Linked DNA regions of Homo sapiens. The protein of the gene in region 1 purifies or fractionates together with the protein of each later gene. This does not show direct contact. Each region holds a gene or a part of one and is shown on either strand. Other genes may lie near its edges.

Region 1 (3,117 bases):
TAGATTCTTTTTTTATTATGAAGGTCAAATTAATCATATGGCTTTAATTATATTATTAAAATGCCTTTGATATAAATAATAGTAAACCAAAAATAGCAATTCCTTATTTCTGTCCTATCTTATTTTCTATAAAGTCTTGGTAAAAACAGAATTAGTGGCTGAGTGCAGTGGCTCATGCCTGTAATCCCAGCACTTTGGGAGGCCAAGGTGGGTGGATCACCTGAGGTCAGGAGTTCCAGACCAGCCTGGCCAACATGGTGAAACCCCATCTCTACTAAAAATATAAAAATTAGCTGGGCGTGATGGCGGGCACCTGTAATCTCAGCTACTTCGGAGGCTAAGGCAGGAGAATCACTTGAACCTGGAAGGCAGAGGTGGCAGTGAGCCAAGATCATGCCATTGCACTCCAGCCTGGGTGAGGCAAAACTCCATCCAAAAAAAAAAAAACAGAATTAGTATCTTTCTGACAATAGCATTATTTTACCACTTTGCATAATAGTACTGAAGAAAAACTTTGAATCAACAGCAAGTTCTTTTTTTAAAAAGATAGTAATTTAAATCAAAGATCATTATGCTTGTTTTTGATTTCTCTATCCTAATACTCAATGAAACGTAAAGCCCACAACTGCTTCTGGAATTCTTGAATTTTAAGTATTTCTTTTCATAATTAATTACATTCTGATAAAAACGCTAATCCACTGGACATCTAAACTATTACAAGAATACTAGGATTTGTTGTAATGCTGGAAGAATCCACAAATAATGGAAGAATCCTCTTCTAAATTGAAATAGCCATGTTTGTCTAGGTATGGTTCTAAGTGAAGGAGAGAGGAGTGGGATTTCTTGCACTACCCTAAGACTGACTACATTGTAAATACGCACACGCGAGCTATTCACTTGCCCACCCTACCCCTCCCTTCTTCCCTCACCCACAGTAACTCTTTGAAATAAAACCCAGAACATCAATTTTGAAGGCTCACAAAATGATATTTTTAAAAATGCTATAATTGAAGGAACTTTTTTAGGAATACTAGTTTCTACTTACTATACTTATGCCATTTAACAACACACTTTGATATCATCAAAAATGCCTTCCTTTGGAAGACATTTATTCTCTTCTTTTGTTTGTAGGTTTGGCAGAATGGCATGTTCCTGCTGCTGGAATGTTTTTATGGATTAAAGTTAAAGGCATTAATGATGTAAAAGAACTGATTGAAGAAAAGGCCGTTAAGATGGGGGTAAAACTGGGAGGTGAAGGGCTGGGAAACCTAAGGAAAAGTTATACTTTTTCTTTAATATTTTGCTTGAATAGAATGGAAAGAAATGTTTCTTGTTGCCCACCAGCCAACTCATAATGTTCTAATATTAGATATTTTATTGCATTATCAAAATCGTAAGAGGTTTTTGGGTTACGTAATTATCCAGCTGGTCTAAATTAGTGGAAATATAGTTGTTCATCTCAGCTACTGATTAGCGTAGTGGCTGAGGGTAGTCTCCGGAGCCACACCTGTTGGGTTTGAATCCCAGCACCACCCCTTAGGGGATGTGTGGCCTTGAATAGGTTACCCTTTCTGTGCTTTGTCTGTAAAACAGAGGTAATAAGAATCCCTCTCTCATAGGGTTGCTCTGATGATTAAGTGAGTTAATATATGTAAAGCCCTTAGACTAGTATGTGGCACATACTCAGTGCTCAGTAAGTATTAGCCACTAGTATTTAAAATGAAGGGTTTGTTTTCTGATGATGGAGATAAAGTATACTCGTGGTAGGATATTTGGAAAATGTATAAAAGCATAATGAAAATTTTTTAAATAGCCCATGATTTTACTACCCAGATTTTGTGACCATTTATAGTATAGTTCCTTGAAAAGCTTGTTCTTACAGTATTTTGGCTGTGCACTTATGTTACATAGTTAAAATTATACAGAAAAGTTTGTATCCTGATTTTTTTTTCACTTAAAATTAGCTCATAGAATGTATTCTAGGTTTCTTTTTTTTTTCCTCTTTTTATATTTAAATTATAAATCTACTTAGGTTTCATTGGAGGCATCAAGTAAGCTGAAAATTCTAAATATTTTTCTGTGTAGCTTTCCAGTTTACCAGATAAATTATTCCTTCTCCATTAATTAAAGCCATTTGCATGTTTGTCAGTCTTTTATACACACTGAAACCCTACTGCTAGATTCACTTTTGTCTTGAATCATAAGAACTAAAGGACAGATTGGATTGATGATGGCAAAGTGCCATGCTGGTGCATAAGAGACAAGGTGCTCTAGAAGTTAGAGCTAGAGACAGACTGCCTGGACTTCAGTCCTACCTCCACCACCTTGGGAAAGCTATTATCCTCTCTTAGCCATCTTACTTGAGGGCAGGACTCAGACTTCATTAATTGTTCTAACCCTAATCACAGCACATAGTAGGTACTTGATAAACAATTGACTTACTTCAAATAAATGCATTGTAGTATAATAAATCAATTTGATACATTCTTTTCTGTCAATGCCATTATCCTCAAAATATGTGGTAAGTGGTTATCTGTAGGTATGTCTAAGCGAGGCGCTAAGGATATAGACTTTGTTTTTACTCTACTCTTCTTCAGTCCTCTTCATTTATCCCATATATCCTGCTACATGTTCTTTTTTTACCTTTTCTAAATAATCTCCAGCTTTATCCCCACTTTGTCAGCCCAGATGTTGGTTATCTTGTGAAGAGATTACCACCACTCCCTTCTCTTTCAGCTCCTTGCTTCTAGTACATCCCAGAACTTTTCCATGCTACTGAGAGAAATGATGGTTTTCATTTTATTTTCAACCAGGACAGAGAAACCCATCTTCTGCCTTGAAATCTTTTGCCCAGAGTACTCCAAATCATATCACTCCCAACTCCTCTTGTCTTAGCAGACAGTGTAACAAGCAGTTACTCAATGCTGTTGAAGATCATGATTATACTAGTCAACCCTAACCACCACAGAAGATAAACTTGAAAATCTCAAAGACTTAATAAGCAATAGAAATTTATCTCTGACTCACATATAATTCTAAGATGTGACCTGCAACCCTCTGTGTTCCAACAGTGATTCAGAGACCCGGGTTTCTTACATCTCATTGCTTTTCATTCTT
Region 2 (3,500 bases), on another chromosome or scaffold:
CTCAGGCTTATTAGGGTGGGGAAAAAACTCCGTCCTGGTAAATTTGTGGTCAGACTGGTTCTCTGCTCTTAAACCATGTTTTCCGTTGTTTAAGATGTTTATCAAGACAATATGTGCACAGCTGAACATAGACCCTTATCAGGAGTTCTGATTTTGCCCTTGTCCTGTTTCCTCAGAAGCATGTGATCTTTGCTCTGCCTTTTGCCCTTTGAAGCATGTGATCTTTGTGACCTACTCCCTATTGGCACAACCCCTCCCCTTTTAAAATCCTTAATAAAAACTTGCTGGTTTTGCGGCTCAGGTGGGCATCATGGTCCTACCGATACGTGATGTCACCCCCAGCAGCCCAGCTGTAAAATTCCTCTTTGTACTCTTTCTCTTCATTTCTCAGCCGGCTGACACTTACAGAAAATAGAAAGAACGTACGTTGAAATATTAGGGGCAGGTTCCCCCAATATCTGGCGCCCAACGTGGTTTTCTTTTTCCTAAGTGCATGTGGGAACCCGATTCCCTTTGGTAGGTGCGGAGAAATGTTCATCGGTCCAGTCCACAGAAATGCTTGTTTGGCTCCCCAACGATTGGTGAGTTGTCTGTGTATTCTCCGGGGTAACTATGGGTCACGCAGAGTCTAAACATTATGCTTATCTCTGCTATATTAAATTCCTGTTAAAATGGGGGAGTTCGGGTTCCCATGGAAAATATGGTCACCCTATTCAGGGCAGTGGAAGAACACTGTCCTTGGTTTCCTGAAAAGGGAACGTTAGATGTGGAACTATGGGATCATGTTGGTGCAAAATTCCGAGAACTGGTCCCAACAGGAAATTATGTTCCTGTCACTGTTTGGGGTGATTGGGCCTTGGTACGTGCCATCCTAATGACATACCAATCCCGTGACACCCTGCAGTTACCACAGTTTTCTGAATCTGGCCACCCTCTACCTCTTCCTCAGCTTTCCTCTCCCACTCGGCCTTCATTATCTGCTCAGCCCCTCCCTTTGCCTACTCCTCCCCCACCTGACGATACTGAGGATTCAATATCTAACTCCAGTGACTTTGGCTTAACATCACCCCCTGATGATCTTATTTCTTTTCACGAAGAGCCGACACTTGTAGCTCCTGCGGCCCCAACTCAGACAGCCCAGGACCATATCTATGCTAACTCTTCCCTCTCCAAACCTTTACAGTCTTTGCCTCCGGAGCCATCCAAACTACAATTTACCTGTAATTCTGCAGGCCCTCCCCCATCCACCACAGCCCCTCACCCTCCTATCATTTTGGTCCCTCAACCGGTCACTTTGCCATCCACTCAACCTGCTTCTCTGTACCCTTCTTCATGCAGGGACACCCCTGCCACTCTGGTTGTGCAGGACTGGGCCAGTAATCACCAGTATGCTTCTGCCTCTTCTGCTCCCCCAATGCCCCTTTCTCACACTCTTATACCAGTCCGACCCCGTCAATCTCAGTTTCTCTTATCTATACATACTTTTCCTGTCACTTCTATGCCGACTCTATCTCATGTGCCTGCTCTTGAAACTTTCATGCAATGCTTATTACGCCAAAACAAACAAGTAGATTAGAGGCGTGGGCTTATTCGGTCATGCTGGAACCTCCTAATGCTCAAGGGGTACAAGTGTGTCGATATACGCCGCTCAATCTTACCTTTTTAAAAGAATTCAAGGATGCTTGTACTCAGTATGTTCCTACTTCTCCATATGTTAAAACGGTATTACAGACTCTTTGTACCGAGGTCATTTTGCTTCCTATAGACTGCGACCTTTTGGCAAAAGCTGTTCTAACTCCATCTCAGCATTTACAATTCCATACCTGGTGGTCAGAGGAGGCCCGCCTGCAGGCTCAGCTAAATCGGGCTGATGGCATTCCAATTACTCAGGCTCAGCTCACAGGCTCCGATAATTACTCTGATACTACTGCTCATTTAGGCTTTGATGCTCTCACCACGGAACAAGTAACAAAGGTGTGTATGAGAGCTTGGGATAAATTACGCACCCCAGGCCAAGCTTCTGTTTCTTTTACTATTGTTAAACAGGGTCACAATGAATTATATCTTGATTTTTTAGCTAAATTACAAGATGCTGTTGAAAAATCTGTCTCTGATGAGCACACTCAAGGTATTCTTCTTCATATGTTAGCTTTTCAAAATGCGAACCATGAGTGTAAAATGGCCGTGCATTCCATCCTACGTCAAAATTTACCTGATCATGAGGTGTTGCCTGCATATATTAAAGCTTGTGAAGGCGTTGGATCGGAGACCCACAGAGCTATTCTGTGGGCACCGGCCATGAAGCACGGCAACCAAACTGGCTCGACTGATTCTTTTCTTGGAGCCTGCTATAATTGTGGCCAACTTGGTCATACCCAAAAAAACTACACTGTTAAAAACTTAAAAGCGGCCAAGCCGGCTCAACAAACACGGCCAAATGCTCCTGCTACTGTTTGCCTGCGTTGTCGTAAGGGTAAACATTGGGCAAGTACTTGCCACTCAGTCTGATATAGATGAAAATCCCTTGCCACAGAACCAGGGAAACAGGAAGCAAGGCCAGTCCCAGGCCCCAATATCAAATGGGACACCTCGGACTCAGACCAATGTTGTGTTTTTGCGTCAAGCAGTCCCAACGCAGCCCCCAGCACAAACAAATTTACCTACAGCCAATCCAGATGGGTCCCAGCCTCTTCTTCTGTCTCAGTACAATGCTTGTCTACCTCCACAGTAGGCAGCAGGGCGGTCGATCTCTGTAGTACCATTCCTCTAAATTTACTACCTAATTCTTTGCCTTTAATTGTCCCCATGGGGGTCACTGGCCCTTTACCTCAAGGTTCGGTGGGCCTGGTGTTAGGCAGGGCATCCACCTCATGATACTAAAGGTATCATAGTTCATACTAGTCTCATTAATTCTGATTCCTCTGATGAGATTAAACTTATGTAAACTTATGGTGTCTGCCAAAGTTCCTGTTTCCATTCCGGCCAGTGAGTCAATTGCTCAATTACTTTTACTACCTAACATTGTTTTAAACAAAGGAGATAAGACATGGGGCCCTGGGATGGGCTCCAGCGGTGAAAAAGCCGCTTATTGGATTAATGTAATTTCTAAACAATGGCCTACCTGCACCATACACATTCAAGGAAAAAAGGTTGAGGGCCTAGTTGATACTGGGGCTGATGTTTCTATTATTTCCTCTAATTTATGGCCTTCCTCCTGGCTTAAACATCCCACTAACATGAAACTAGAAGGTGTTAGAAAAGCTGAAGAAGTTCACCAGAGCACATTTATCTTGGCTTGCACTGGCCCTGATGGTCAAAAGGGAACAATTCAGCCTTATATCATGCCCATCCCCATTAATCTTCGGGGCAGAGATTTGCTGGCACAAATTGGGGCTGAAATTAATATTCCACATAACTTTTACAGTGCTCCCAGTCAACATATAATGGAAAACATGGGGTTTGTTTCCAGACTCGGTCTCGGTCCAAAACGTGAAAAAATT

Evidence for each region. The genes of interacting proteins can lie anywhere in the genome.
Region 2: the proteins of AADAT (region 1) and TXNRD2 fractionate together in Homo sapiens (co-fractionation; one large-scale study listed by BioGRID). This does not show direct contact.

The regions. Positions count from the first base shown.
Region 1 is NC_000004.12:170,062,840-170,065,956, reverse strand, and holds part of AADAT (kynurenine/alpha-aminoadipate aminotransferase, mitochondrial), read left to right. Parts: intron 1-1,131; coding exon 1,132-1,238; intron 1,239-3,027; exon of another isoform or gene 3,028-3,117. UniProt on the Homo sapiens protein: Transaminase with broad substrate specificity. Has transaminase activity towards aminoadipate, kynurenine, methionine and glutamate. Shows activity also towards tryptophan, aspartate and hydroxykynurenine.
Region 2 is NC_000022.11:19,935,319-19,938,818, forward strand, and holds part of TXNRD2 (thioredoxin reductase 2, mitochondrial isoform 5 precursor), read right to left. Parts: intron 2,862-3,500; exon of another isoform or gene 2,509-2,861; coding exon of another isoform or gene 1,543-2,508; exon of another isoform or gene 521-1,542; intron 1-520. Other genes in the region: endogenous retrovirus group K member 24 Gag polyprotein-like, read left to right, coding at 1,543-2,508. UniProt on the Homo sapiens protein: Involved in the control of reactive oxygen species levels and the regulation of mitochondrial redox homeostasis. Maintains thioredoxin in a reduced state. May play a role in redox-regulated cell signaling.